Regions from separate parts of the Homo sapiens genome. Here regions 2, 3, 4, 5, 6 and 7 are each reported to be linked to region 1. Evidence: microRNA targets listed by miRTarBase, many of them from high-throughput screens and not tested one by one. Region 1 holds a microRNA gene; each other region holds the end of a gene's coding sequence. Distances are between the middles of the regions.
What was found. The annotated mature microRNA hsa-miR-515-5p reads UUCUCCAAAAGAAAGCACUUUCUG and lies in region 1 at 1,775-1,798, opposite strand. An mRNA with a match to its seed (bases 2 to 7 or 8) in the 3' UTR can be bound and repressed. Matches are read on the target gene's strand: a 7mer-m8 pairs with bases 2 to 8, a 7mer-A1 pairs with bases 2 to 7 and ends in A, and an 8mer does both.

Region 1 (4,696 bases):
GCAACACAGGAGACTGAGATGGGAGAACCACTTCAACCCGGGAAGGGGAGATTGTAGTGAGCAGAGATCGTGACCCTGCAAAGAGGACCACCTGAGCCCAAGAGAGCTAGGTTGGAAGTGCCACTGCTCTCCAGCCTGGGCAAAAGAGACCCCGTCTTAGAAAACAAACAAACCAGGAACAAAAGCCCACCCTCATCCAAGTCTGATGATAAGCACGCTCTGCAAATGTATTGCCGAGATCAGCATGAACGTTAACGTTGCTTTTCTCAAACTGTAATCCTCTAAAAAGATGCACTTTCTTTTCTTTCAGACAACAGAAAGCGCTTCCCTCTAGAGGGTCACAGGCTGAGATCTTCTTGCTCCAGCACCATTGATTTTTTGTTGGAATTTTCCTTGACCAGGTTAAAATGGACACAAAAATAAAGATGCATTTATTGGCCCTGTTTGCATGATTTCTGGAATCCAGAACATAAACCCCTATCAGGGCCATCTCCAGTTCCTTGTTTCAAAAAGCAATGCCGACTATACATACCTTATATTTAACCATGAGAATTGGGCTGGATTCTAGAGAACAGCAATAGATTTTGAGCTAAGTGTTCACTCGAGTTCCAGTACAGTGACACACAGTCCCGACGGGGGCATCCAAAATGGAATCTACGATGTTGAAGAATATGCATTGTCACACACACAAACACCCTCCAGGAGAGACCACAGGCCAGGCTGTAAAAGCTCCTCAATAAAATGAGCAGAAACACACAGGTACAGGTGAGGTGTGGTGGCTCACACCTCTAAACCCAGCCCTTTAGGAGGCTGAGGCAGGAGTATCACTTGAGTTCAAGAGTTTGAGACCAGCCTGGGCAACATGGTGATACCTCATGTGTAGAGAAAACAGAAAAGTTAGCCGGGCGTGGTGGTGTGCGCCTGTAGACAGCTACTCAAGAGGCTGAAGTGGCAGGTGGAGGTTGCAATAAGCTGAGATGGCACCACTGCACTCTAGCCTGGGTGACAGACCCAGACCTTATCTAAAAAAAAAACAAAAACATACACACACAAACAAAAAATTACCCAAAGTGATACGAGAGTATTCTCTGTGTATAGAAGAGTGTTTTGTGTGTATATGACTATGTTACATGTATAATAAGAATATGATAAAATATATATTTTTGAGACCGTACATCAATAAAAATTAAGTTCCATATACTATGTGCTCACATGAAAAATAATTCCTACACATATGTGCTTGCATTGGCAGCACACATTAAAAAAAATTGGAGGCTAGGCTGGGTGGCTTACACCTATAATCTCAGCATTTTGGGAGGCTGAGGCAGGCGGATCACCTGAGGTCAGGAGTTGGAGACTAACCTGGCCATCATGATGAAACTGCATCTCTGCTAAAAATGCAAATATTAGCCAGGCGTCGTGGCACGTGCACCTGTAATCCCATCTACTTGGGAGGAGAGGTTGCAGTGAGCAGATAACATGCCACTGCGCTCAAGCCTGGGCCAGAGACAGAGACTCTGTTTCAAGAAAAAAAAAAAAAGCAAGCACGGGACCACTTGAGCCCAAGAGATCTAGGTTGGAAGCGCCACCGCACTCCAGCCTGGGCAACAGAGACCCCATGATGCAAAACAACTAAACAAAAACAGAACCCCAACATCATGCAAGTCTGATGATAAGCACGCTCTGCAAATGTGTTACCAAGATCAGCATCAACTTCAACGTGGTTTTTCTCAAACAGTAACGCTCCAAAAGAAGGCACTCTGCTTTCAGACAACAGAAAGTGCTTTCTTTTGGAGAATGACTGCATGAGATCTTCTCGCTCCAAAAGTCTGGGTTTTTTGACGGAATTTTCCTCACCTGGTTAAAATGGACACAAAAATAAAGATACATTTATTGACTCTCTCTGCATGTTTTCTGGAATCCAGAATATAAACCCCTAAAAGGACCATCTCCAGTTCCTTGCTTCAAAGGCTCAGCAGGTTAGCCTTGTTCATCAAGAGACAATCCTCCTGAGTTCTGTCCCCAAAGAGAAAAAGCAATGCCTACCACACATACCTTATATTTAACCATGAGAATTGGGCTGGATTTCTAGAGAACAGCAATGGATTTGAAGCCAAGTGTTCACATAAGTCCCAGTACAGGGACACACAGTCCCCATGCAAGCATCCAAAATGGAATCTAAGATGATGTTTAAGAATATACACTGTTGTACACACATTCTCCAGGATAGAACACAGGCTAGGCCATAAAAGCTCCTCAATAAATTTTTTTTTTTTTTTTGAAACAAGTCTCACTTTGTTGCCCAGGCTGTAGTGCAGGGCCGTGATCTCAGCTCACTGCAAGCTCTGCCTCCAGGTTTCCAGCAATTCTCCTGTCTCAGCCTCTGGGGTACCTGGGATTACAGGCACGTGCCACGATGCCCACCTAATTTTGCATTTTTAAAATTTTTTTTTCTTTTTTTTCTTTTCTTTTTGTGGAGAACAGGGTCTCACTGTATTGCCCAGGCAGGTCTCAAACTCCTGGGCTCAAGCTATCCTCCTGCCTCTGCCTCCCTAAGAGCTGGGATTACAGGCGTGAGCCACCGCGCCCGGCTAATTTTTGTACTTTTAGTAGAAATGAGGTTTCACCATCTTGGCCAGGCTGGTCTCAAACTCCTGACTCCAGGTGATTAGCCTGCTTTGGTCTCCAAGAGTGCTGAGACGACATGCCTGAGCTACCGTGCCTGGCCTGCAGACAGCTATTCCAGAGGCTGCGGTGGGGCATGGGCCAAGACTGCAACACTGCACTGCAGCCTGGGTGACAGAGCCAGACCTTGTCTCATAACACACACACACACACACACACACACACACACACACACACACGAAGGAAAAAAAACCCAAAGTGATACAAGAGTATTCTGTGTGTGTAGAAGAGTGTTTTGTGTTAATCATTATATTATCTATAGAAGATGATATGATAAAATGTGTATCATATATAAGACACTGCCCCCAGAAAAGGAAGTTCTATATACTGAATGCTCACACGAAGAGTAATTTCTCCACCTAAGTGCCTTCTCTGGCAGCATATGTTAAAAAAAAAAAAAAATGACAGCGATTCCCACGTCCCCTGCACAAAGTGACACCCAAATTCATGATGGTCCCATATTTAAAATTAGAAAAAACAAATGCCGACACCCACAGCCAATCATTTCTACTTCAAGTACATCTCAAGTATACTGTTAATCTGAAATACAAATTTAACCAGGTTTCCCTGCTCTGGGAAGCCCCCTTTGGTAATTCAGATAAGGGTCTCCTTTGGAAGGTAATGGGTAAGGAACATGGAGATGTCAGCCAAGGGAAGTGACTCTCAGGGATTTCTATGGATTATGCAGACGCCCAGCCAGATCCCAAACTTCCCCAAAAGATCCCAAGTCCAGGCAGGAAGGACCACTGGGCTCCAGAAACCAAATGAAGTGGCCCTGGGCAGGAGTCTCTGTTGTCAGATTCCATGACTAAGACAGCCAGGGAGCAGAGTGAAAATCCCAGGGGCTCTCTCTCCCAGAAGACACCTGCTCCATCCAGATCAAACCCAAAATGTCCCCAGAGAATGATGCCTGCTTCTCCTTTCCCCTCGGCTCATCCTGCCTGCATCGGTGCAGTGCCCTGACGTTCCCAGCCCAGAGGCCTTCACTCCTTCCAGTGCCCCAGGAGGGTCACCTTGCAGTTCTCAGGGAGGAAGATGGGGTCTTCCACCCTTGTGAGCTTCCCAGACATCAGGGTCTGCCCGCCCCACTCCATTCCCAAAGGATGTTCCGCCCAGTTCTCCCAGCCTCCTGCTTCCCTCCAGGGACCACCCTTCAGTGGTAAGATTCACATTGCAGACAACCAGGACCAACCCATTATCCTCAACTGGACACCCATACAAGATTGGTCTACGTGACCGGCCTACAAGAGGCAGATCCAGAGCTAGAGAGATGGGGAGTCGTTGCCACGGTCTGGGTGGAAGAGGTGGGTGGGTACTGACTGCAAATGAGTATAAGCCTCTTCGGGGTGATGAAAATCTTCCAAAACTAGAGTGGTGGTGGCTGCAAACAAGCTAAAATCCACATCTCAGAGTTCATCTCAAAAGATTAGTTTCTCGGCCGGGCGCGGTGGCTCACGCCTATAATCCCAGCACTTTGGGAGGCCGAGGCGGGCGGATCACGAGGTTAGAAGATCGAGACCATCCTGGCTAACACGGTGAAACCCCGTCTCTACTGAAAATGCAAAAAATACAAAAATTAGATGGGCGTGGTTGCACGCACCTGTGATCCCAGCTACTCAGGAGGCTGAGGTTTCAGTGAGCCAAGATAGTGCCACTGCATTGCTGAGACACACAGTGAGACTCCCTGTCAAACAAACAAACAAACAAACAAAAACGACCGGAGCCCAAGAAATGTAGGTTGAAGTGTCACCGCACTCCAGCCTGGGCAACAGGGACCTTGTCTTGGAATACAACAAAACAAAAGCAAAACCCCACCATCATCCAAGTCTGATGATAAGCACGCTCTGCAAATATTTTACCAAGATCAGCATCAACTTCAACATTGCTTTTCCCAAACGGTAACCCTCTAAAAGGAAGCACTTGCTTTTCTTTCTGACCACAGAAAGCGCTTCCCTTTAGAGGGTCACAGCCTGAGATCCTCTTGCTCCAGCACCGTGGATTTTTTGTGGGA
Region 2 (3,000 bases), not on the chromosome of region 1:
TCATGCTAATTATTCCATAAATAATATGGTTAGTTCTAAATGGACTTAATACTAAAAAAAAATTGGTAAAATAATAGATACCAATTTATAGAGCTTTACCAAAACGAACCAAAAAAATATTTTCAAAGAAAGCCTAGGTGCTTCTTCCTAGTTTGCAAGTCAAGCTTAATCTAAATGGTGATTTAGATTATCCTTTTAATTTATTCTACAACATACCTTAAGATATAATTTTAGACCTATAAATAGATATGAGGACATCCTGAAATCACTGCAAGCAAAGAAGGAAGATATAAAATCATCAATTGGGTGCCTGCTATTTTAGGTACTTTCACTTACTTCCTAAAGTGCTCAAAATGAGCTTGTGAAGTATTTTCGCCAGTCATTTTATAGATGAGGACGCTGAGGCTCAGGACTACTACTAATTTACCCAATGTCACATAGCTGGAATTCAAATCTAAACTAGGTTACCTTCAAAACCTGAACTCTTTCCCACTGCCCCATGTGGAATCCCGGTAACACCAAGATCACTGACTGTTATCTCATAAAAACTCATTTTAAGAACTGAACTTTTATCTTTATTCGGTGGCTGGCACTTTGTAATTGTAATTCTGCCCACACTTTAATACTTTAATGAGGACATTTTCTCCACAGCTTTTCATTTGTCCTCTCAAGAAAGTGAATTGAAGCACCTAGATTTAAGTGAGCTTTTCAAGTATGTCTGCAAAAACATGTACAGAGAGGTAAAACTTGCTTTATGATTCAGAGAACTGCACTAATCAAATGCAAAATGACTATTTACAGCAGAACTCTGTATAAAACTAGTTAATCTTGACCCTACCCACAATAATTAGTCACTGAGGGTCCTTATTCTAATAAGTGGAGGAGAAAACTCCCATTATTTCAGGCTTTAAGTCAACTAGCTTTCTAATATTGATTTATGGTATCATTAAGACTGTCACAGTAATCAAACAGGTTCTGCCAATTGTTTTATCAGTCACCATTTACTTTTTGGAAGTGATAGATTGTAAGAGCCCTAAAGAGAAGGACTTTGCCTTGTATAATTCTCTATCTTCCCTAGGGCCCCAAGCTCAGTGTCTGGCAGAGTAGGCATGTAGTGGCACCTGCTGAATATGCTGCTTACTCAGTAACTTGTCAAGTCAATGCATGTATGTTCAAGATTGGTTCCATAGCACAGTCTCAAGGGCACTAGAAATGTGAGGATATGCTATACCACTGCATTGACTGTGAGGGGAACCTGCTGGCACCAGGGAGAAGCGCAGATTTAGCCTTTAACAAGAGACAGAGTAAGTTAATAGTAGGCACTAATGTAGTTCTGAGGATCTAAACATTTAACTAAAAACTGTCAGAGATAAACAAAAACTGCCAACAACAGATATCATGAAACTTTTTTTCCTTTTGCATGATTCCATAATGTAGTGCAATACCTTTCACTGTTCTGCAGAGGGTAATGCCAGCACTCCTGCAGGACTGGCATTGCAGTTTAAATTTCAGGTCCAGTAAAGACATGAAATAAATAATTGTGTGGAAGTGACACTATGGCTTCCTTCTCTTCTGTCTGTAAACACAGACTGGTTTTCTGGGAAGAGGGAAAAAGGTTGCTTCTGCTTTATTTTCACATCTGTAATTTTAATATGATTTAAAAAATCCAGGTTATAGAAAAACATAAAGACAGAAGAAACAAATTAGGAGATGACTATTCACATTGTAAAGGGATAAATTCTCCATAGGGTTTCATTAAATACTGAACTCCCCTAAGTCAATGAATTTGGGACTTGATTTAAATGCAGCTTTTCAGGAATACATTTCTTATGTAAAGTGAGGTACACGCATGTATTCATCTTAAGTTTCCTCCAAGGACAATCCAGCACTTTGCTTCCATTCACAGGACAGGGGAACAGATAGTACTTGTGAAAGAAGTCAGCGGCCCCTCTTGGACTGCCCTCCTCACCTTTCTCAGGAGCCAAGGCTGTGAGGAATCCAAACAACAAAGTCCCACCTGCAGCCACAGTCCTTCCACTCTCCACCAACAAGGCTCCTTCTACAACCACAAATTTGCTTCACCTTGGTCCAGAAAAACGTGAATCGGGAACAGTTGTGTATGAGATTTGGAAGCTGCACGGGCCACAAATATGGCCTGTGGCAGATGGGGAAATTCAGGAAACCGCCTCAACGGCTTCTTGCCGCTAAGCTATTTCATTTCTGCACTGGTTACAAGGTGAGGAAGAACCCCCTCCTTCACCCCTAAACAATGATGCCCATCAGCAGCAAAGGGAGCCCAATTGCTAGCTGTGCAAAAAATATGGAAACCGGGCCCCCATCTCTGTGCTGAGTAATATTAATTGGTAAATCGTTTTTTTCCCATAGAGCAAAAATGGGTGTTTGAAGAACTTACTCCCATGATGCGGCAGTCAAGGAGATGCACAGTAGAGGATCAAAAAGCTGACAACTTGGCCTCCCCTGGGTCGCTTCCAGGGGAGCGCGGCTTCACCGCTCGAACCAGCTGGCCAAGTTCCGTATGCTCTTGGGCCGGTCCCCAGCCCTCTGTACAGCCTGGCACACCCGGCACCAAGGCTCGTCCCAGAAGGAGGTGATGTGGACAGCGTAGCTCCGGCGCCAGTGGAAGTAGCGGCGATAGACCGCGGGGTTGCGGTCGAGGAAAAGCAGGTACGAGGCCAGGGAGGAGGCACTTGGGAAGTCGTCCACGTGGATGAAGGCGCCGCGGGGCACAAAGCGCTCGTAGTTGGCACGGTCTGGGCCCAGCACCACCGGCACCGCCCCAGCGAGCAACGCGTTGCGCCAGAGCTTCTCGGTGATATAATCCAGGTGCTGCGAGTTCTCGAAAGCCAGGTAGAACTTGTAGCGGGCCACTGTGTGCAGGAGCCCAATTTCGGGCACCGGCTGCCCCGGCCCGCCCCGGCCGAACACGTCCACGGTCACATGTTGGCTCAGTTGGTGGTAGTAGCGGACCCGGGCCTGGCG
Region 3 (4,650 bases), not on the chromosome of region 1:
CTGGCTAATTTTTGTATTTTTAGTACAGATGAGGTTTCACCATGTTGGCCAGGCTGGTTTTGAACTCATGACCTTAAGCGGTCTGCCTGCCTTAGCCTCCCAAAATGCTGGGATTACAGGCATGAGCTACTATGCCTGGCCTGGTTTGATTTTAGAGATAGACAGGCTCTGTGTTGCCCTGGCTACAGTGCAGTGGCTGTTCACAGCTGTGATCATGGCACACCGCAGCCCCAAACTCAAGGTGGGCTCAAGCTGTCTTCCTATCTCAGCCTTCCTGGTAGCTAGGACCACAGGCACACTCCACCACACCCAGCTAGTTCTAGGTGTTTTGAGTAAGTTAGACACTTGGTGAGCTTTGTGTATAAAAGACTCAGTGACCTGCTTAGATTAAAACTAGGGCAGTGGAATGAAAAATTCTCATGGGAAGTGACAGTTTATTTTCTTCACTTACTGGTAAATGAAAGCCAAAAAGCTGAATTTTCCTAAGTAAACTAGAAAGAACATGGAGTGTGTGTGACTAACTAGGATGTTTGTGTTTACGTTTACAAAGATAACTTTCACCTACAGTGGTTGTAGATACAAGTAATAAAAATGAACAAGACCAGTATTCTAACGTGGTTACCTTCCAAGATTGGAAATTTAACCAGGCGTTGAAATGCTGAAAATTTCTGTTAGAAAAGATGGGCGAAGGAATTAATGGTGGATACTGAAACCACAGTTGGCTGTATGAGTTGAACTGTAACAGGCAATACCTGTTGTATGGCCAACATGATTACTCAGTTGCAGTGCACATGTTGGCTGGTTGGCATATGCTCTGTAAGCGCAGCTTGGCAGTCTTTAAGATCCATAGAAATACTCTTTGACGTTTGATCTCTAAGTTCCATTTCTGGGCATTTGTCCTTAAGGAATGGAAAAGCAGGCAAACTAAAGCTAGTCATTGCAGCAATAACCCACTGGAAACAACTGAAAATATAATGAGAGAATTGTAGAGTGCTGGATAAAATGTTGTGGGTCCACTCAAAATGATTCGAGTGTTGTAGTGTGGAAAATGCCCAAGCCAGGGGGGACACATTTAAAATGGTGGGTACACTCTGATTGTGATTATCAAATATATAGATGGACAAGGACAGGAGGGTTTTTTGAAAAGTAAAGACAGATGAGAAGTGTAATATAACCTAAGTCTTTAAAACGTAGAAACATTTAAAAATACAATTGCTTTGAATTTGAGTGGACTCATATAAAACAAGAATTGTCTGGATTTGCTGTCTTGCTGTTAAGGCAGGGTTCTTGAAAAGAGCTGTGTGTCCACTGCCTCAATCACTCCTCACAGTCCTGCTGCTTCTCTCTTTGCTGAAAATGCTTTAGGGGTGGAATGTCTGTTCTTAACCACTGTGGGTGGCTTCATAAATCACCTCCTTACTGAAGTGTGCTTGTTAGGCCTATTGGTTATCAAATGGGGCACAGTGTAGCTGCCTCTTAAAAAGTTGTGAGGAATGAGTTAGAACTGGATCTGAAGTCCTCAGGTAATAGGCATGGCTATGACTGGGTGACTTTAAGCATTGTTGCTTCTCAACTTGCTTTGTATCCTCAGCAGTCAAACCAGGTGCTCTTGGCTCCATTCAGACTCTTGGGTTCTGCTCTTGACCATTTTGCAAAGAGTTCTGAACCTTCATGGGCAAGGTCAAGCACCCTGTGACTGGGGGAGAACCTTTGAACCTGGAGTGTGGGCCTGGGTTCGCCCCGGATCCCTGTCCATTGCTTGCTGTGGGCCTTGGTTTCTTTATCTGTAAAATGGAGGTAATGCCTGGATTACAAGGCTGCTATAAGGATGAGAGGGGACAATGAGGGTACTTTTTAATGAAAGCATTCTTGTCACCACCAGGGAACCATAGTCAGGATTTGGGGGCATGTAGGTGTCATTCCACAGCCACTTACCAAGCAGCCCTCTCTTAGCTTGGTGCTGGGACTCATTGCCTCTCCAATGGAATTTTCCAAGTGTGTTGAGGGCTGTCTTGCTCCTTACCTACTTGATTCTCTTGCAGATCTTACTGTGCCGAGATCGCTCACAATGTTTCCTCCAAGAACCGCAAAGCCATCGTGGAAAGAGCTGCCCAACTGGCCATCAGAGTCACCAACCCCAATGCCAGGCTGCGCAGTGAAGAAAATGAGTAGGCAGCTCATGTGCACGTTTTCTGTTTAAATAAATGTAAAAACTGCCATCTGGCATCTTCCTTCCTTGATTTTAAGTCTTCAGCTTCTTGGCCAACTTAGTTTGCCACAGAGATTGTTCTTTTGCTTAAGCCCCTTTGGAATCTCCCATTTGGAGGGGATTTGTAAAGGACACTCAGTCCTTGAACAGGGGAATGTGGCCTCAAGTGCACAGACTAGCCTTAGTCATCTCCAGTTGAGGCTGGGTATGAGGGGTACAGACTTGGCCCTCACACCAGGTAGGTTCTGAGACACTTGAAGAAGCTTGTGGCTCCCAAGCCACAAGTAGTCATTCTTAGCCTTGCTTTTGTAAAGTTAGGTGACAAGTTATTCCATGTGATGCTTGTGAGAATTGAGAAAATATGCATGGAAATATCCAGATGAATTTCTTACACAGATTCTTACGGGATGCCTAAATTGCATCCTGTAACTTCTGTCCAAAAAGAACAGGATGATGTACAAATTGCTCTTCCAGGTAATCCACCACGGTTAACTGGAAAAGCACTTTCAGTCTCCTATAACCCTCCCACCAGCTGCTGCTTCAGGTATAATGTTACAGCAGTTTGCCAAGGCGGGGACCTAACTGGTGACAATTGAGCCTCTTGACTGGTACTCAGAATTTAGTGACACGTGGTCCTGATTTTTTTTGGAGACGGGGTCTTGCTCTCACCCAGGCTGGGAGTGCAGTGGCACACTGACTACAGCCTTGACCTCCCCAGGCTCAGGTGATCTTCCCACCTCAGCCTTCCAAGTAGCTGGGACTACAGATGCACACCTCCAAACCTGGGTAGTTTTTGAAGTTTTTTTGTAGAGGTGGTCTAGCCATGTTGCCTAGGCTCCCGAACTCCTGAGCTCAAGCAATCCTGCTTCAGCCTCCCAAAGTACTGGGATTACAGGCATCTTCTGTAGTATATAGGTCATGAGGGATATGGGATGTGGTACTTATGAGACAGAAATGCTTACAGGATGTTTTTCTGTAACCATCCTGGTCAACTTAGCAGAAATGCTGCGCTGGGTATAATAAAGCTTTTCTACTTCTAGTCTAGACAGGAATCTTACAGATTGTCTCCTGTTCAAAACCTAGTCATAAATATTTATAATGCAAACTGGTCATTTTTGGGATTTTGTTTTTGAGACTCATTCTGTCACCCCGGCTGGAGTGCAGTGGCTTGATCTTGGCTCCCTGCAACTTCTGCCTCCTGGGTTCAGGCGATTCGATTAACAATTGGAGACGAGTCGTGCAGAGGAAAGAAGTAACTTAGAATCTAATCTTTATTAACCTGGGATATCACAGAAAATACTTGGGCCTGCCACTTGTATTTCTTTGTCCTCAATACTGAACACTAGACACATTTGAAACCTTCCTCAGAAGGAAACAAACCAACTGGTTATGCCTGGGTGGTGGCATGGAAGATGCCCATTGTTGCCCAATTTGCTAATAAGTATTTTGAAATTAGAAATGAAACATGAGGTCCAAGCCTGTCCAGTTCCCTACCCAACCCATTCCTCCTCCCTGGAAAAAAGAAACCCGTATCATCTTCCAAATTTCTGATTCATCACTGCCACTTAAAAATGAACCGTTTTGAATTTTAAAATGTGAATAACTCAAGTATCTTTTCTTTTGAGATGCCCGGCCTGAGCACTAACTTCAGGCATTGCTGAATGCAGTGAAGAAACCAGAGTGGTGTCTGCTGCCTCCTGATCTTTTACAGCTGACAGCACAGCCTATTTCTAAATACTACTAGTTTGTGAGGCAGAGACACCCTCTGAAGGAACCAGACAGACTATGGAGGGGTACAGTGTGAAGTCACTGGAAAACTTCCTCACCCTATTTCTTTGGATGACTGTCCTGAGTTAAGGAAGGGGCCCAACTGTTGGCAGCCTCACAGCTTGGGCTGGGGGCCTTTGAGTTGGGTCCCTGGAGAAGGCACTGTAAGCCCTGACCAGGAGCGACAGGGCCCCCAGTGAGATGGTGGAAGGGCAAAAGTAGAGACCTGCGATGGTGGGATGGGGAGGCCTCGGACTTGGGTGGGCTCCTTTCTCTTAAGCGAGGGCCCACCTTGGTGCTGAGGGGACTAGCTGAGCTCCATTGAGTCTGTGCTGGGGGCTGAAGCGGAATCCTTCTGGATGCTTTCAAAGAGGGCAGCAAGTTCAGGGTTGGATCTGATTTGGGAAGAGAAGTCGGCCATGATGGGGCTTTTCCCCACCTCGGGGATGGTCAGCAGGGCAGCCACTGCCCTCATTGCAGAGCGCTTCAGTTCATCTTGCTTTTCAAACTCCTGCTTCACAGAACCAGCTTTGACCTAAAGTAGGAAACAGCAGAAGCAGCCATCCTTTATTGAGCCTGGCCCACACCACTGCCTCCTCACTGGTCTTTGGCTTCCTCTCTGCCCCATCATCTTCCCCAACATAAATCCCTGCTGCGAGGTCTCCTGAGGCTTC
Region 4 (3,000 bases), not on the chromosome of region 1:
ACATAAGAGACTCCAATGGGCCCTAAGTCCTCCCCAGCTCCACAAAGCTGGCTGTGAAGAAGTTGCTGAACTACTCCATAACCTTTTATTTTACAGTTGCTTTCATGAGCATGACTTGTTTCCATAATCACATGCAAATTGGGGGAAGTAACTATATGGATGGAAACAGGGGGTGGCTGTAAGTAGATCCAGTTTCTCTCCCCTGGGGTGGCTGATCTCAGTAAGACTTAGGGATGCAGGTGGGCTTTTATCTTTGTCTCTCTTAGGGGATGAGGGAAGAGAGGGACAGCAGAGGTGAGAACAGAGACAAAGAAGTGCTTCTGAAAGTTGGTCTGGAATTAGACCCCAAAGATCCTGACTAATATTGCCCCCCACTTGGGCTTAGCGTCCTTTGTTTTAACTGGCTTATTTTTAAAGTAAATTAGTTGTTCAGCATGTTGCTAAAACAAAACAAAAAAAAATTCTAAAAATGAATTAAATCACTTTCATCCACTTCATCCCACAACTTTTGGATACACTGTGCATCATTTCCAGATTTCTCCACAAAGAAGGAGGGACAACCCAAATGAGGCACAATGACTGAAGGCAGCAGAGCAGTCTGTCTACTTTCTGGGAAGACATATGAAATGAGGGAAAAGGTCAAGGTGATCAGAAAAGGTTCTCTCATTTGAAAAACAGGAGAGGAATTGGCATTCAGTCAAGGGATCTATTTCAAGATTCTAGGAAGAGGCTTCTTCCTAGAAGAATAAATAGAGGAATAAAATAGGCACAAAGTTCTGTAGCTATTTGTACGAGGTTTTGTAGAATCCACTGAAATTTTAATTCAGAGGATAAATTGGGTAAGAGCAGTGCATTTTAATAAATGTGAAGTTTTTGAGAGTCCTTACAACTTTAATACTAGGTTTCTTCCCACCAGTAAAGTGTTTAAATTCCCCCTGGGAACTATGCATTTGTCTATTTAACATCCATGAAGTAAAAATTGTCCTAGGCTTAAATTTTACTTTTCCAACTTTGGTATAAGTGAATTACAAATGCCTACACTCAAGTTGTTTTCCTAGACAGGATTTTCTCAAATGTTAATTGCTCTGGCCATTTTAGCTTCCTAAATTTAGTCCCCAATCCTGGTCATTGGTATTTTGCTGGCTGAGGCACTGTCACCCCCCTTCCCCAGTAATGGCCCCACACTCTTCATGAATGAATGCTTAAACAGATTAGGAAAGCAAACAGAATTTTCTAATAGCAAAGAAACCTCTGTGTGTATGTTCATCAATATAAGCGTTCATAATGAATGAAGGAATAGTTAAACAGATTAGTAAAGCAAACCAAATTCTCTAATTGCAAAGTGTGTGTGTGTGTGATCATCAATATACAGGCTTTCTCAGAAGAGGAAGAAAACTATAGAGGTAGCACTATACTGATCTATATTTTAAAAGGTTGTGCAAGCATGTTATGCATCTCTTTTGTTTTCAGAGACGGCAGAGAGCAACGTCTTGCTGCTCTTGGAATATCTGGCTATAAACTAGTCCAAAGTCCAGGAACACTTATTTTCCCTTATTTGGGCCAATGTTTGTTCACAGGTAGCCAGCCTCCCTCCCCCAGTTCAAGCACTTCATTCAAGGGTGGGTGTGGTTTCTAATCACAGCTCTCCAGGAGAGGAGGAATAAGAAAAGCAAAAAGGCTGTTTAACATGATAAAGGGGGAGGGGGGAGGGGGGAGGGGGTGGAGCAAATAAGTGTTGGAAATTTACTTATTAGAAGTATATCCATTTCAGTCCTTACATTTAAAAAGGAGCCCCCTTTAGCAACTGTCGCTAAGTATTGTCCAGAGGGAGTGGGTTTATACTTTTACCAAAATTATAACACAAGTTCCTTAAAAAAAAAAAAAAAAAAAAAAAAAGGGGATCACTGAAGCTTAAGAACCACCCACTACCTCTCAGGCACAAAGCTGCCATCTCACCAGCCTAAAATTCAAGCTCCACCAATCACCATCGCTTAGGCTCTCACTACTGCAAATATTTATGCCAGATCCTCTATAATGCTACCTCTAACTTATTCAAGACACAACGATGGTGCTGTTAGGAGTGAGAATTATTACAAGCACTACAGAAAAGAAACTGAACCTCCCTCTATAAACAAAGCTAAGGCTGAACACAAAACCGCTAAGCACTCCCTAACCTTGTCACTTTGGGGAGGCCCTGAGCTCATTATGCTCCCCTCCTAGGTATGACCTGGGGCTATAAACTGCAGCTCACCTTAAAGAATCATGGACACTTTAAGCAGTGGAAGGAGAAGCTGGCTGAAAAAGCACACCCAACAACTTCCCAGTCACAGCAACCGAAACGTTCACTGTTCACATTTTTTTTTAAAGACACACGTATAGGAAATATATTTTCCCAATTGAGACCACACAGTTCAAAGAAACCTGAACCAAGTGGAACTTCATTACAACGCCAACCTTAGGATTGTAAAGCCCCCAAAGCAAAGGTAAATTGTTGCCAAAATGCAACAAAGTTACAAATTAAGAAAAATACATATAAATTAAAAAGAGGGTTCCCATAAAGAAGGCAGTAAGAAACGCAAAATAGAATACACGTGAGCTGGGCCCCTTGGAGAAGACCTGGGACAGGTTCTTCCTCGAAAACGCCCCTCTTCCCTCTCTCCAAGTCGCCGCGGGAGGGGGCAACAGCACCATGAAGGTAAACGGAAGTGACCTTGGCAAAACTACCAAACAAAACGCCCCCCTCCCCTCAGCTCTCCGGCCGAGTCCCTCGGCGGCAGCCTCCTACACGTGCGACAGGGACACCTGCTTGTGGTAGGTGGCGGCGGGGCCCGGCGGCCCGGTCCTGCCTGTGAGCGCGGCGCTCGCCTCGGGGTAGTCCCCTGCGGCCATGGCGCCCCCGCTCTTGTGGCCGCGCCGCGGGCGGCAGCAGCAGCGGCTGGTGAAACGCCGCCACGACTCCACCGTCTTGCCCGACCAGATCCAGACGCCCGACGTGATGCC
Region 5 (4,696 bases), not on the chromosome of region 1:
TTTGTCAATGTGGGAGGTGAACTGTAAAGGAAATGACTTTTGATGCTAGACTCAGTTATCGGAAAACTTAAATATGTAAATCTACTTTTCTCAACTGTAAATTTTGTGAAATCTAAACATAAATCAAGTACTTTTTTTTGTTTTTTTTTTTTTTGAGATGGTCTTGCTCTGTGGCCCAGGCTGGAGTAAAATGGCACCATCTCAGCTCACTGCAACCTCCACCTCCGGGTTTAAGTGATTCTCCTGCCTCAGCTTCCCAAGTAGCTGGGATTACAGGTGCCCACCACCATGCCTAGCTAATTTTTGAATTTTTAGTGGAGATGGGGTTTCACCATGTTGGCCAGGCTGATCTTGAACTTCTGACCTCAAATGATCAGTCCACCTCAGACTCCCAAAGTGCTGGGATTACAGGCATGAGCCACTGTGCCTGGCCAAATCAAGTACTTCTGATGAAAAGTTAGCATCCAAATGGAGATATGTGTAAGCAGAAAATACACACCAGATGTCAAAGATAGAGGAACAAAAAAAAAAAAATACAAAATATCTCACTCATGATTCGTTACATTGATTACACACTGATGGAACATTTGTGATAAATTGGGCTAAAATGCATTATTAAAATTAATTTCACTTGTGTCTCTTTCCTTTTTTTAATGGGGCTATAAGAAAATTTAAAATTACATACATGGGGAAAAAAGCTAAAGTTGCCATTTTTTCCCTTTACCTTCATTTATCTGTTTGTCTAATAGTCACTGAAGAACATATCTTTTTAAAGAAGTACGTGTGTGACTTACATTATACTTCTATCTGCAGTGCTGGTTCAGAACACCATGACATTTGACCAAAGGACTCAGCAGAGGGAAGGCTGCCCAGGCCCCAAGCTCACCATGAAGGATACAGCCACACCCTTGGTTCATTCTCGCACGAATTTCAGACCTCCCACCTATGTTGAAGACTCTGGCTACTGGCCACATGCTCACCGACACCGTTCCACGGCAAAAGCCCAGCACATCTCAGGGGTTTCCTGGGAGGCCGGATGAATGTGTGAGGCCTCCTGGGAGCAGCCCTCAGCAGGCAAGGGCTTTGGCCTGTTGGGGTCCACAACTAAGTGTCCACAGTAGACCAGCCCTGCTCAGGCTTGGATTCTCTCAACATTAGGCAAAGGGTCTCCCCATACCCATTTGACAGATGCAAAAACTGAGGCTCAGGAAGCTCAAGTTTGGGAATTCTTTGAATTTTATGTTTCCTGAGCATCTATTTGAATGTAAGTTGGACTTTCTCATACTAGAAGCAGGGATTAGTAACACAGTTTCCAGTTATACAACTTCTCACTGTTCCCCAAGGTGGTCGATCCAGACATCTGCCTTACAAAACCGCCTCCTGGGACCACCTTCCCATGGACAGCTGGATACCACCTGCTTGACTTGTCCCACTGACCCCCACACCCACATGGACCATGCCGATATCCTACCCACACCGACCCCTCTCAGTCACAGCGTGAGTCCCCGGGGCTCATGCCTGCTTGCTCTAAACCCCCCAGTTAGAACCTCCAGGGGAAACCTGCATAGATGACACCCTGGGCCCCAGTGAAGGCTTTGGCTCATAGCTCCCTCTCTCTCTCGTTCTCCACCTTCTGGTTGAGCCCATGTGTCCTGAATGGCTCCCCCTTTTTGCTGGCCCTGTGAAGCGTGCTGCCCTCTGTTCTCTGGATCTGTAAGCAATAAACTGCTTCTGTCATTTCTTGGGTTCTGATGAGTTGCCTCCTCTACCCCATCCTAACTTCTTTCCCGGTCAGGGCTCTCCGGGAGAGTGGCTGTCTCAGTAGGAATAAACTGGACACAGGTCAGATGAGAGCCACAAGGTCATGTGCCAGGATAAACAAGCTTCCTGCGAGAGGGACACCTGGCCACAGGTTGGACACTCAGGAATCAGGCCGTCTGTGAGGTCAAAGAAGGATCCCATGAAAGGCACATGGGAAACACCCACGACCACATCCCCAGGATCCCCGTCAGGGCAGGGCTAGAGTTTACAGCCACTCTCTCCTGAGAAGGACGTCAAGACAAAATTAGGAAAAAAACTACAACATCAAGTCACTTGCCCAAAGTCACATGTACGCACCCCGTAGGTGCAGGTGCAGAGTTTCTCACCGGCTCTCCCCTTTACGCCACCACCAGAAACACAGGAGATATTTCTGAGGTAGCCTCAGGCCCTGGGACCCAAAAATGCCAGTGCTTGGAAATCCACTGCTTAGGAGACAACAGCTGGGTGACAACTCTAGCCCACCGTTCTCTGCTATCTTTTTAAAAAAGCTGCAAATTCAAAAATTCAAAAAATTAGTTTATTAGCTTAATATAATTAGGTCAATGGAATCCTGTTTTGATCTCAATACTTCCCATATTGCAATATATAAATGTGACAAATTCAGCTGTTTTGTGGCATAGATAAGTGTCTAAGCTGGGCAGTTAGTCTACCCGTTTATAGTTCATGTTCTTCATGGCTTTGCAGCATTTGTCACTTTCTATGATGTGTTCAAAGACCAGAAAAGGCCACACTTGACCTGTCAGCTGGTCCTTGAACAGCTGTAGGTTTTTTTTTTTTTTTGAGACAGAGTCTCCCTCTGTTGTCCAGGCTGGAGTGCAGTAGCGCAACCTCGACTCACTGCAACCTCTGCCTCCAGGTTCAAGTGATTCTCCTCCTCAGACTCCTGAGTAGCTGGGATTACAGGCACATGCCACCATGCCCGGCTGATTTTTATATTTTTAGTAGAGATGGGGTTTCACCATGTTGGCCAGGCTGGTCTTGAACTCCTGACCTCAAGTGATCCACCCACCTCGGCCTCCCAAAGTGCTGGGATTACAGGCGTGAGCCACCGCACCCGGCCTGTAGGTTTTAACTAATAATTAGGGTATTACTCTATCATTCTCTATCATTCAAATTCTCCAGGTACTGACCTGGTTTTTATTTTATTTATTTATTTATTTACTTATTTATTTTTGAGACAGGGTCTCACTCTGCTGCCCAGGCTAGAGTACAGTAGTGGCACAATCTTGGCTCACTGCAGTCTCCACCTCCTGGGTTCTATTGATTCTTGTGCCTCAGCCTCCCAAGTAGCTGGGACTACAGGCGTGCACCACCACACCAGGCTAATTTTTGTATTTTTTGTAGAGATGGGGTCTCACCATGTTGGCCAGGCTGGTCTCAAACTCCTGACCTCAGGTGATCCACCCACTTTGGCCTCCCAAAGTGCTGGAATTACAGGCATGAGGCACTACACCTGGTCAGACCTTGTTTTTAAATTATGATTCGATGTACATGTCAAAAATTAAATTATTTCATGCATTACGTCCTACTGAATTTGTGTTTCAAATGAAATAATCAATTTTAGGATTCCTACACTTATTTTATAAAAGTGAAAATTAAATCAAATGATCTAACTATTTCCAAGCAAATTTTGGGATGAAAGCTATTCTAGGAAGGCTTGCCCTTGATTCTTGCTACATGTACTTGTTCAGCCACTCAATTAAATTCCTTCTGGCCTCGTCAATGTAGGGCTTGTCTGCAGGTGAGCAATCTTCTCTCTTCCGATGCACGAACCCATGAGTCTGCCCAGAAAATGTTTTAATTTGATATTCAACTTTGCAGTGTTCTTTCAACTTCTGAGTCAGCAAAGATACCTGGTGTGCAAAAGATTTCATGATTTTAACCCTTTAGTGATACTTTCCATTCTCCAAATCTTTAGTGAGCGTTCATAACAGAAATTTAACATCAATGCTTTAAATCAGAAACAAGTTCCACAGTTACACTGAATTCTTTCCCACTAATTTTTTTCTTTTTAGACAGGGTCTCACTCTGTTGCCCAGGTTGGAGTTCAGTGGCGCCATCTCAGCTCACTGCAACCTCTGCCTCCCACATTCAAGTGATTCTCCTGCCTCAGCCTCCGGAGAAGCCGGGATGACAGGCACCCGCCACCATGCCCAGCTAATTTTTGTATTTTTAGTAGAGACAGGGTTTCACCATGTTGACCAGGCTAGTCTCAAACTCCTGACCTCAAGTGATCTGCCTGCCTCTGCCTCCCAATGTGTTGGGATTACAGGCGTGAGCCACGGCGCCCGGCCTCTACTGCTAATTTTATAACTAACACAGTCCTTATGTCTGGCAAAGGAGAGATTTCAGGGAAATGGAAAAATGATACATCTATTATTTGAAATCACTTGCATTAATATATTAGTTACTAATATTATAACAATAATTTCTAAATGACTGCTTTTTTTTCTTAAGAGTCAGGGTCTCACTCTGTCACCCAGGCTGGAGTGCGGTGGCACAATCGTGGCTCACTGCAGCCTCCAACTCCTGTGCTCAGGCAATCTTCCTGCCTCAGGCTCCCAAATAGCTGGGACTACAGATGTGTGCCACCATCCCAGCTAATTTTTTTATATTTTTGTGGAGAAGGGATCTAGCTAGACTGCCTAGCCTGGTCTTAAACTCTCAGCCTCAATCAATCCTCCCACCTCAGCCTTCTGAGTTTCTGGAATTACAGGCATGAGCCACCACGCCCAGCTAAATGACTGCTTTTGAACCATACTTTTCTTCTGCTTTTTCCTTATCAACTGACTTTGTTTAATAAATCCTTGTCTTTAAGGTCACAGACTTTATTGTAATTTGTGGGTTAGCATGGAGGTGGGGCAAGAGGTCCCGT
Region 6 (4,696 bases), 50 Mb from region 1:
TGCCTCTTGGGTTCAAGTGATTCTCCTGACTCAGCATCCCGAGTAGCTGGGATTACAGGCACCCGCCATCACGTCTGGCTAATTTTTGTATTTTTAGTAGAAATGGGGTTTCACCATGTTGGCCAGGCTGGTCCCAAACTCCCGACCTCAGGTGATCCACCCGCCTCGGCCTCCCAAAGTGCTGGAATTACAGACGTGAACCACCACACCCGGCCAAAGACCAGACTGTTAACCTCACACTGTCCTGTTTAAAGGGTCAGCCCTTGACTTTGTTTTTTTTTTTTTTTTTGAAATGGAGTCTTGTGCCATCAGTGCGATCTCGGCTCACTGCAAGCTCCATCTCCCAGGCTCAAGCGATTCTCCTGCCTCAGCCTCCTGAGTAGCTGGGATTACGGGTGGACACTACCATGCGTAGCTAATTTTTGTATTTTTAGTAGAGACGGGGTTTGACCATGTTGGCCAGGCTGGTCTCAAACTCCTGACCTCAGGTGATCTGCCCGTCTTGGCCTCCCAAGGTGCTGGGATTACAGGCGTGAGCCACCACGCCTGGCCATGGGGTGGAGTATTTCTGATGGCCTCTGGACAGAGACTGGAGCAGAGGTACTGACAGAGATGGAGAGAAAGAGACAGAGATGAGACAGAAGGAGAGGGAGAGGAAGAAAAGACTCAAGCTAGAGAACGAGAGAAAGAGGGGAGGGGAGAGAAACAGAGACAGTTAGCTGGGCATGGTGGTATGGGCCTGTGGTCCCAGCTACTCAGGAGGCTGAGGCAGGAGCATCTCTTGAGCCAAGGAGGTCGAGGCTGCAGTGAGCTGAGATTGCGCCACTGCACTCCAGCCTGGGTGACAGAGTGAGATCCTGTCCCCACTCCCTTCTGCAAAAAAAAGAGAGAGACAAAGTTGTGGACACACAGTCAGCTGGAGACACAGATCCTGGCTGGACAGAGGGCTTGGAAGGAGGCAGGCATCCTCCTGAGGGAAGGTGGGGAAAAGGTGGCCCTCCAGGACCCTCGGAAGCCCCACCTGGCCCCTATACCAGCTGGGAAGTCTCAGCACAGCCGACCCCAAGATAAGGAGTGAGTGCCCCATCCTCAGAGGTATACAAGTCCAGAGGTGTCAGAACAAAGCCAGGGCTGCTGTGTGTCCTCCACCACAAACACCCTGGCCTGTGCAGGTGTGCACGCAGGCCTGCTCAGGACCCCGTGAGCCGGGAAGCCAGGGCCACAGCATAGGAACAAGCCGAGGACACCCGCAGCGCCAACCACGGAGGTCCACCCTGGTTTCTGCAGGCTTCGTGAGCTTTGATAACCCGGCCAGCGCCCAGGCAGCCATCCAGGCCATGAACGGCTTCCAGATCGGCATGAAGAGGCTCAAAGTCCAGCTGAAGCGGCCCAAAGACCCGGGACACCCCTACTGACCGCGCCCACAGCCGCCCTGAGGCTGTAGGCATGGCCCAGGTGAGCCGCCAGGCGGCCCCACCCCCGCCCAAGCCCCCCGTCTTGTCTGAAACCCCCTCCCGCGGCCCACTTCATGCTCCAAACCCTCCCCAGGTGGGGTGATGCTTCAAGAGGCTACAAGAAACCTCCGGGTTGGGTTGGCGGGGACAGAGCTGGATGTAGACACCCCCGATCCCCCTGTGGTTGGGGCTGGAGCAGAGGGTGGGAATGGGGTAGGGACTGAGGTGAGCCAGGGCCCAGTGAGGTCGGTTAGGGAATCCTTCCCGGAGAAGGCTTTGAGGGCTGAATAGAAGTTCACCTGAGAGGCCAGGTTTGCTCTGGGGGTGGGGGTGCGGTGGGGAGGGGGTTCTGTCCTGTCCTATGAGTCTGTTTTCCCTGCTGAAAACCCAACACCAGACGGAAATGCCAAGTGCCCACCCCAGACCCCAAACCCTAAGGTTGGACCCCAACTCGGAACCAGGAGTGGAGCGTGGAAGGTGGGGACAGTGCTCAGGGCCCAGTCCAGTTGGCACTGACAGCTTCCAGTGTCCCCGCTCCATTTCCACTAGTTCCCCTGGGACAAGCGGCCCCTCACTGGGTGTCATTCCTACCCAATGAGTTGATGGAAAAGTGGGATTCGTGCCCCACCCACCATCATGCAAGAAAAACAAGCAAAACGAAACCCAGACTGTAGTTTGCCATCAGGGCAAACCACTTTCTCAACATTTTTTTGTGGGGGGATGAACAGTAAACCTTGTGGGGCCACTGTGGAAACTTAACCGTGGGTCTCAAACCTTGATGAGCCTCATCTGTAAAATGGGTTCAAGAAAGTCATCTCCCCAGAGACGGCGGAAACGGTCCACCTAGGGAACAGAGTGGGGCATCTTTTCGCAGCCGAGCCCAGAACCCATCACCTAAAGAGTTCTGGATGATTCGTTTTGATTTTTTTTTTTTTTAAATCACCATCGCTGTCGTCATCAGAGTCTCGCCTAGGGCCTGGCACAGAGTAGACGCTCAGTTAGAAGCTGTCTGGCCTTTTCACCTTCTCCCGGGTCAGCACACACAGATTTGGGAGTATTTACCTGCACAGAACGCACCTTCAGGAACTGCCAACCAGAAGCAAAATCCAAAGCTGCTCTCTGCGATCCCTTCACTTTTAACTCTCAGTCTGCACTTTTTTTTTTTAACTGAGCATCTATTATGTGCTAGGCACTGTTCCAGTGCTCGGGGACGCAGCTGTGAATGAACAGAAACGGGGGATGGAGGACAGGGGAGAAACCCCCTTCACGGGCCTTAGATGGCAGGGGGTAGGGAAGGAGAGACAGAAAATAAACAGAAATATCTGTCCCCAGCTGCCAGAGGAGGAGGAAATGGGCTTGGTGATGGTGACATTAAGTTCTTTGAAAGCTGGGTTTGTTGGCCTCTGAACTCTGGCCTTTGTGGGATCTGTTCTTTTGGAAAAGATGGGAGCCCCTGTGTTCCTAGATCCCAGCCTGGCCGGGTGGAGTAGGGTGGGGAGGTGGTGTCCACCTGTGTGGCCCCGTTCTCACTCCCTAACGCCCGTCCCTTCTCCCCCAGGTGAGGGGCCTTCCCATCCCAGGAGGGTTTTCTGCTTCCAACCGATCCAGGACTTACCCATAAATTCCAACCGTTCTTTGGACACCAGCCCTTTCCTCCCCTCTTCTCCCCTTGCCCTGCCCCTCTACTGGAGGCCACCTGGAGTGGCGAGGGGCCTTTGGGGTCTGTCCTGGGGCAGGGGCGGGGGTGGGGGAGGCTCCTGAATCGTGGGCAGAAGTGTTCACACGCCCCCCCTGCTTTGGGAAACGCTCTCGCTTCTTCCCCACAAAACTTGGTGACTTCCCCAAACTAAATCACACCTTTTCCTATATATATATATATGCATATATATATAGATCTATAGACAGTATATATATATTTTGAGTACGGATCATGGGACCAAACTTTTCCGACTTCCTTCCATCCGAGTAGAGTGACCCTGGGCCGGTCACTCAGCGGGGGACACAGGAAGGGCTGAGGTTGGCGGGACCCCGCGCAACACATACCAGGTGCCCCACCCCCACCCCCACCACCTCCTGGCTGGCACATCCCACCAGGAACCCGCCAACACAACATACCTCCAGGACTTTTGGCACCCCCCACCACCAATTCTCCAGGGCCGTTGGGCTCTGCCAGCTTCAGTGTCCCTGGTCCCAGCTGCAGCCTCCAGACCCCACCTCGCCCCTTCGTCCCAGAGCCCTGCCCTCCGGGATGGATATAGGTACAACAGAGACGCTCTGGCCTGCCTCAGCCCTTCTCTGCTCCCCTGCCCGAGTCATAGCCTTACTCATGTGACCAATAGCCCTTAGCTTTCCGTCGGAGGGGGGGGGCGGACAGGGTTGGGGGGAGCCCCCCTGCCCCTCACCACCCCCTCCCAAGGCCAGGCAGCCATTGTCCCTGCCTTCGAATCACCAGCCTCGAATTTAAGGTCTTGTAACCAGGATTGCCAAGCGTAGCGGAAGACCCTACCCGGACCGGCCAAGCACCCCTTTAACTGGAGACGAACTTGATAATGACCTTCATACCTCTACAGAGATTTTTTTTTTTTTCCGGTCTTTCTGAGCAGGTACAAAGAAGAAAAGAGAAGAAAAAGATGGGGGGAAAAAATCAAACCACAATGGATTTTTGTTTCCTAGTTGGGAGTGGGGTGGGGTGGGGTGTCTTTGTGAGGGTGCCTCTGTACAGCTGCCCAATCCGCGACACCCACGTCAAAGCACAGCATCAAGTTCGTTTGGACATCCGGCAAGGCCTCTTACCAAATGAGGCGCCAGATAACTTAATAAGCTCAAAAGAAAAAAACATTTAAAAAGAAAGAAAAAAAAAAAAAAAAAAACCAAGCATTTCCTTTTCTTTCTACCAAAATGTGTTGACTGACCCGGAGGGGGGGCGGTAGGGTGGGGGAAACCACACAGAAAAAAAAAAAAAAAAAAAAAAGAAAAGAAAAAAGAAAAAAAAATAGAAAAGAAAAAAAAAAATCTTCTGAACCAACTTGTTTCGATATTCCAGAGTTTGATAATTGTTTCGAGACTCTCCTCTAGCGTGCCTGTGTTCCGTGTGTCCCCGTGTGCAAGCGTGTGCCATGCCAATCTGCCTCGAGGGGGCCTCACCCGTGTCCGCGGCGCCCGCCGAGGCCCCCGAGGGCCTGCTTGGGAGTGTGTGCCGGTGTGCAGTTGTACGTGTCTTTCTGGTCCATGTTTACTGGCTG
Region 7 (4,696 bases), not on the chromosome of region 1:
AGTCAGTAGTCACTTGCTACAACTGTTCCCTGTCTCTTTGCAGCTGTAGCATTTACCTTTGATCTCAGTGGACTCAACATTTTGTCATTCCAAAGTATCCTGCCATTTGTTTCAGCACTTTATGTCATGGGAAACAGAAACCAGTGTCTGCAAAAGCACCTAGAAGCCAGAAATAAAGATGTATGTGTTATTATTTCTCTTGCCTTTTGAAAAAGAAACCAAGAGTTGGCAGTTTACTTCTAGAGGCACTATGTTATATCGGGGAACAGAAAGAGCTGTGTTGGGTAAATGTAACAGACTTTTCTCTCTCTTCTGTGTGGCTCTTTGCATTGTGCAAACCTGGGGCACTGCACACACTTAACTCATTTATTCTCCACAGATATGTTTTGGTATGTTTTTGTTACATTTATATGTCTATAAAGGAATTAGAACCTGTGGTATTTTGCTATGCCATCTTGCTTATGTAGTTTGTATGATTTTATAGGTTAGATTTGTAAAGTATATTCATCTGAGTCTAGCAGGTGGAGTAATTTGTTATTTTTTGTTTCTTTCAGCTCTGTGTTCTCGTTTTGCCCAAGACCTTTGGCTAGAGCAGAACATAAAAGATTCTTTCCAAAAAGTGACACTGAGCAGATATGGAAAATATGGACATAAGAATTTACAGTTAAGAAAAGGCTGTAAAAGTGTGGATGAGTGTAAGGGACACCAAGGAGGTTTTAATGGACTTAACCAATGTTTGAAAATTACCACAAGCAAAATATTTCAATGTAATAAATATGTAAAAGTCATGCATAAATTTTCAAATTCAAATAGACACAAGATAAGACATACTGAAAATAAACATTTCAGATGTAAAGAATGTGACAAATCACTTTGCATGCTTTCACGCCTAACTCAACATAAAAAAATTCATACTAGAGAGAATTTCTACAAATGTGAAGAGTGTGGAAAAACCTTTAACTGGTCCACAAACCTTTCTAAACCTAAGAAAATTCATACTGGAGAAAAACCCTACAAATGTGAAGTATGTGGAAAAGCCTTTCACCAATCCTCAATCCTTACTAAACATAAGATAATTCGTACTGGAGAAAAACCCTATAAATGTGCACACTGTGGCAAAGCCTTTAAACAGTCCTCACACCTTACTAGACATAAGATAATTCATACTGAAGAGAAACCCTACAAATGTGAACAATGTGGCAAGGTCTTTAAGCAGTCCCCAACCCTTACTAAACATCAGATAATTTATACTGGAGAGGAACCATACAAATGTGAGGAATGTGGCAAAGCTTTTAACCTATCTTAACAACTTACTGAACATAAGAAAATTTACACTAGAGAGAAAGCCTACAAATGTGAAGAATGTGGCAAAGCCTTTAACCAGTTTTCAACCCTTATTACACATAAGATAATTCATAGCGGAGAGAAACCCCACAAATGTGAAGAATGTGGCAGAGCTTTTAACCAGTCCGCAAAGCTCACTGAACATAAGTTAATTCATACTGGAGAAAAACCCTACAAATGTAAAGAATGTGGAAAAGCTTTTCACCGATACTCAATCCTTAGTACACATAAGAAAATTCATACTGGGGAGAAACCCCACAAATGTGGAGAATGCGGAAAAGCCTTTAACTGGTCCTCAACTCTTATTACACATAAGATAATTCACAGTGGAGAAAAACCCTACAAATGTGAAGAATGTGGCAAAGCTTTTAACCAGTCCTCACACCTTATGAGACATAAGAAAATTCATAGTAAAGAGAAACCCTACAAATGTGAACAGTGTGGCAAGGTCTTTAAGAAGTCCTCAACTCTTACTGCACATAAGATCATTCATACTGGAGAGAAACCTTACAAATGTGAGGAATGTGGCAAAGGTTTTAGCCAACTCTCAAACCTTACTAAACACAAGAAGATTCATACTAGAGAGAAACCCTACAAATGTGAAGAATGTGGCATATCTTTTAACCAGTTCTCACAACTTGCTATACATAAGATGATTCACACTTGAATGAAACCCTACAAATGTGAACGATGTGGCAGTTGTTTTAACTAGTTCTCGAACTTTACTATGCATAAGAAAATTCAAACTGGAGAGAAACTCTACAAATGTGAAGAATGTGGCAAAGCTTTTAACCAAGTCTCAACACTTACTATACATAAGATAATTTATACTGGAGCAAAACCTTGGAAATTCAAAGAATGTGGTAAAACTTACAATCCTCAAAACTTCTTACACCTAAAATTCATGCAGGAGAGAAACACCACAAATGTGAAAAATTTGGTAAATTCTTTAACAAGTCTTCAACCCTTTCTGCACATAATATAATTCATACTGGAGAGAAACCCCACAAATATGAAGAATGTGGTAATGCTTTTAACCAATTCTCAAATCTTACTAAACAAAATTAATACTGAAAATGTTACAAACCAGAAAAATGTGAAAATGATTTTAACAAAACCTTCAAATTTTTCTAAACATAAAGGAAATCATACTGGTAAGAAATTATAAAAATGTGAAGAATGTGACAAAGCCTTTAAATGGTTGTCACACTTGATTGTAGGTAAGATAATTCATACTGGCAGAAACTCCCAGAAGTGTGAAGAATATGGCAAAACTTTAATTCCTATACCTTATTGCACAGGAAAGCATTTATACTTCAGAAAATGTTGTACTGATATAAAGAATGTAGAAAAGCCATTAATATGTGCTTACATCTTATTCAACATTAGAGAGTTAGTACTTAATAAAAGCATTATAAATGCAATTACTGTCAAAACTCAGCATAAGGTTTTGTTTTAGTGTGTGGTTTGTTTGTTTGTTTGTTTTGTTTTGTTTTTTTTAAATGAGACTACGTAATACTCTCTCCCAGGCTGGAGTGCACTGGTGCAATCTTGGTTTACCGTAACCTCTGCCTTCCAGGTTCAAGCAATTCTCCTGCCTGGGCCTCCAGAATAGCTGGGACTACAGGCATGTACCATCACGCCCGGCTAAGTTTTGTATTTTTTAGTAGAGACAGGATTTTACTGTGTTGGCCAGGCTCATCTCGAACTCCTGACTTGAAATGATCCATACACCTCTGCCTCCCAAAGTGCTGGAATAACAGGTGTGAGCCACTGTTCCCAGCCAATATAAGCCTTTAAAGTAAAAAAAGAGTTTTTATTTTGAAGACAAACATTAGAAACATAAAGAGGGTTGTAGTGCCTGCCTTACTTGTATCACAGATCTTATTGTACACATTTTGTATCCGAAGCAGTTGCTCAAACTTCGTTCAACATCAGGGAATTTATATCGGAGAAAAACTACAAATGTAATACATTTCAAAAATTTTTCAAAAACTACATCTTAGAAAACACCAGGGGATGCATACTAAACTATATTTTTCCACATGCAGTAAATATAAAAAAAATCAAAAATAAGGCTACGTAAGTATCAGAGAATTCACAGTAAAAATATCTAAGGCACTGACACTTCAAACATTGCACTAAGTAAATGTGCTGAGTATATAAAATAACCCAAAACTAAAGTGGGTAGATAAATTATTTGTACATAACTTTAAAAGAAGTAGAAATATTTTTGCAGAGTTACAATTACATTCAAAGTATACTTTTTTCCTTGAAAAAAATTGCAGAATTTATGAAAAGTGAATAATGTAATTCAACTCAAATTACTTCATGCTCTTCATTCCTATTGCATTCACTAGTGAAAGCATGTGATCAATTGTTGCTGCATCAAAGGTATGAGAGATTCTTTTTTGTTATGTCAATATTGTTTTTGAATTTTTCTATGGAAGAGTAAAGACATTACAATGTAGGATGCATGACAAAAGTCTAAGTGGAGAGGCTCTTTGTGTTTAATTTATAATATTGAGTGATGTATGAGGTAAGTGTTCAGAGTAGTATTCTGCGTTATACTCCAAACAAAATAATTTTAGTTAAAATTAATTAGTATATAATTTTACTAATTGTACTTTTATGTAATAAAATGCAGTACAGTTTGAAAGGCAATGGAAGGGCACCGTGGATCAATAAGGCCAAGAGGCGAGACAAAGAGGGCAAAAATCTTTATTGAGCTCTCGGGCGAGGTTCACTGGTCCACAGGGGGAGGGCCAGGGAAGTCGCACTGTGCCAAAGGTGCAGCGCGCTTTTATGGATGCTGGGTGAGGAGTGGGCAGGGTAGGGGCGGGGTCGGTTGAGTTTCACACTTCTGAGTGTGACACGCCCTAGTGGGCATGCGCGTTAGTCGGGGTGACGGGAACAGGAAAGGTGAACCCGGAAATGCTGAGTCGGGGTATCTGAGGTGGTGATCGCCATCTTGGAGTCTTCACTGGAGTCCAATCAGTCCAGCCTATTTTTGGTTATAGAAAAGGGGCGACGAAATCATCTGGCTACTTCCTGCTGTTAAGGGGTGTCACTGGGGAGAGGGCCTAAATCAGAGGTTGGCAGTTGGACGTAGGGGTGAAGTAACATCTGGTTGAAAGTGACCCTGGTGATTTCTTGTATCCGCTGGCGGAGAAACTGTACTAGGATTGGGGCAAAACACATTATTATACAGAGAATTATAATTGGGATAAGGAAAGGGAGCATCTGTTGAACCACAGGTGAAAACCACCAAGAAGGACCAGGGTGGAGAGGGTCCTAGGAATGTTTTAACTCCTCTTGGATCTTTTTTTTTTAAAGTTTGTAAATTGGTCTC

Region 2: the mRNA of FUT4 is a reported target of hsa-miR-515-5p. Seed matches in the 3' UTR shown: 7mer-A1 at 1,739-1,745 and 7mer-A1 at 642-648.
Region 3: miRTarBase lists RPL32 as a target of hsa-miR-515-5p. Seed matches in the 3' UTR shown: 7mer-m8 at 2,855-2,861 and 7mer-m8 at 3,434-3,440.
Region 4: miRTarBase lists FZD5 as a target of hsa-miR-515-5p. Seed matches in the 3' UTR shown: 7mer-m8 at 2,656-2,662 and 7mer-A1 at 537-543.
Region 5: the mRNA of CMBL is a reported target of hsa-miR-515-5p. Seed matches in the 3' UTR shown: 7mer-A1 at 2,936-2,942 and 7mer-A1 at 1,623-1,629.
Region 6: the mRNA of CELF5 is a reported target of hsa-miR-515-5p. The part of its 3' UTR that is shown has no 7-base or 8-base seed match.
Region 7: the mRNA of ZNF138 is a reported target of hsa-miR-515-5p. Seed matches in the 3' UTR shown: 7mer-A1 at 1,504-1,510, 7mer-A1 at 1,609-1,615 and 7mer-A1 at 1,672-1,678.

Annotation. Positions count from the first base shown.
Region 1 is chr19:53,682,124-53,686,819 of GRCh38, reverse strand. It overlaps MIR515-2 (microRNA 515-2), which reads right to left and starts at 1,811; the gene lies at 1,729-1,811. The region is part of intron 2 of LOC107985342 (a long non-coding RNA gene); the gene reads right to left. MIR520F (microRNA 520f) reads right to left here and starts at 4,661; the gene lies at 4,575-4,661. It overlaps MIR519C (microRNA 519c), which reads right to left and starts at 351; the gene lies at 265-351.
Region 2 is chr11:94,545,232-94,548,231 of GRCh38, reverse strand. It overlaps FUT4 (fucosyltransferase 4), which reads right to left. Exons shown (of 1, transcript NM_002033.4): 1 at 1-3,000. The coding sequence ends at 2,506. It overlaps PIWIL4-AS1 (PIWIL4 antisense RNA 1), which reads left to right. Exons shown (of 5, transcript NR_135093.1): 5 at 2,386-2,900. Among named protein-coding and RNA genes, the nearest start is that of FUT4, 2.8 kb to the right of the region's middle. RefSeq lists an enhancer at 2,060-2,734.
Region 3 is chr3:12,833,616-12,838,265 of GRCh38, reverse strand. It overlaps RPL32 (ribosomal protein L32), which reads left to right. Exons shown (of 4, transcript NM_000994.4): 4 at 2,043-3,781. The coding sequence ends at 2,172. It overlaps CAND2 (cullin associated and neddylation dissociated 2 (putative)), which reads right to left. Exons shown (of 15, transcript NM_001162499.2): 15 at 3,463-4,511. The coding sequence ends at 4,284. Among named protein-coding and RNA genes, the nearest start is that of SNORA7A, 4.5 kb to the left of the region's middle.
Region 4 is chr2:207,764,201-207,767,200 of GRCh38, forward strand. It overlaps FZD5 (frizzled class receptor 5), which reads right to left. Exons shown (of 2, transcript NM_003468.4): 2 at 1-3,000. The coding sequence ends at 2,782. Among named protein-coding and RNA genes, the nearest start is that of FZD5, 4.2 kb to the right of the region's middle. RefSeq lists a silencer at 2,891-2,950 and an enhancer at 2,985-3,000.
Region 5 is chr5:10,276,959-10,281,654 of GRCh38, forward strand. CMBL (carboxymethylenebutenolidase homolog) reads right to left here. Exons shown (of 6, transcript NM_138809.4): 6 at 637-3,674. The coding sequence ends at 3,495. Among named protein-coding and RNA genes, the nearest start is that of CMBL, 29 kb to the right of the region's middle.
Region 6 is chr19:3,292,032-3,296,727 of GRCh38, forward strand. It overlaps CELF5 (CUGBP Elav-like family member 5), which reads left to right. Exons shown (of 13, transcript NM_021938.4): 12 at 1,288-1,455. The coding sequence ends at 1,415. Among named protein-coding and RNA genes, the nearest start is that of CELF5, 70 kb to the left of the region's middle.
Region 7 is chr7:64,830,897-64,835,592 of GRCh38, forward strand. ZNF138 (zinc finger protein 138) reads left to right here. Exons shown (of 4, transcript NM_001271639.2): 4 at 555-2,784. The coding sequence ends at 1,306. Among named protein-coding and RNA genes, the nearest start is that of ZNF138, 39 kb to the left of the region's middle.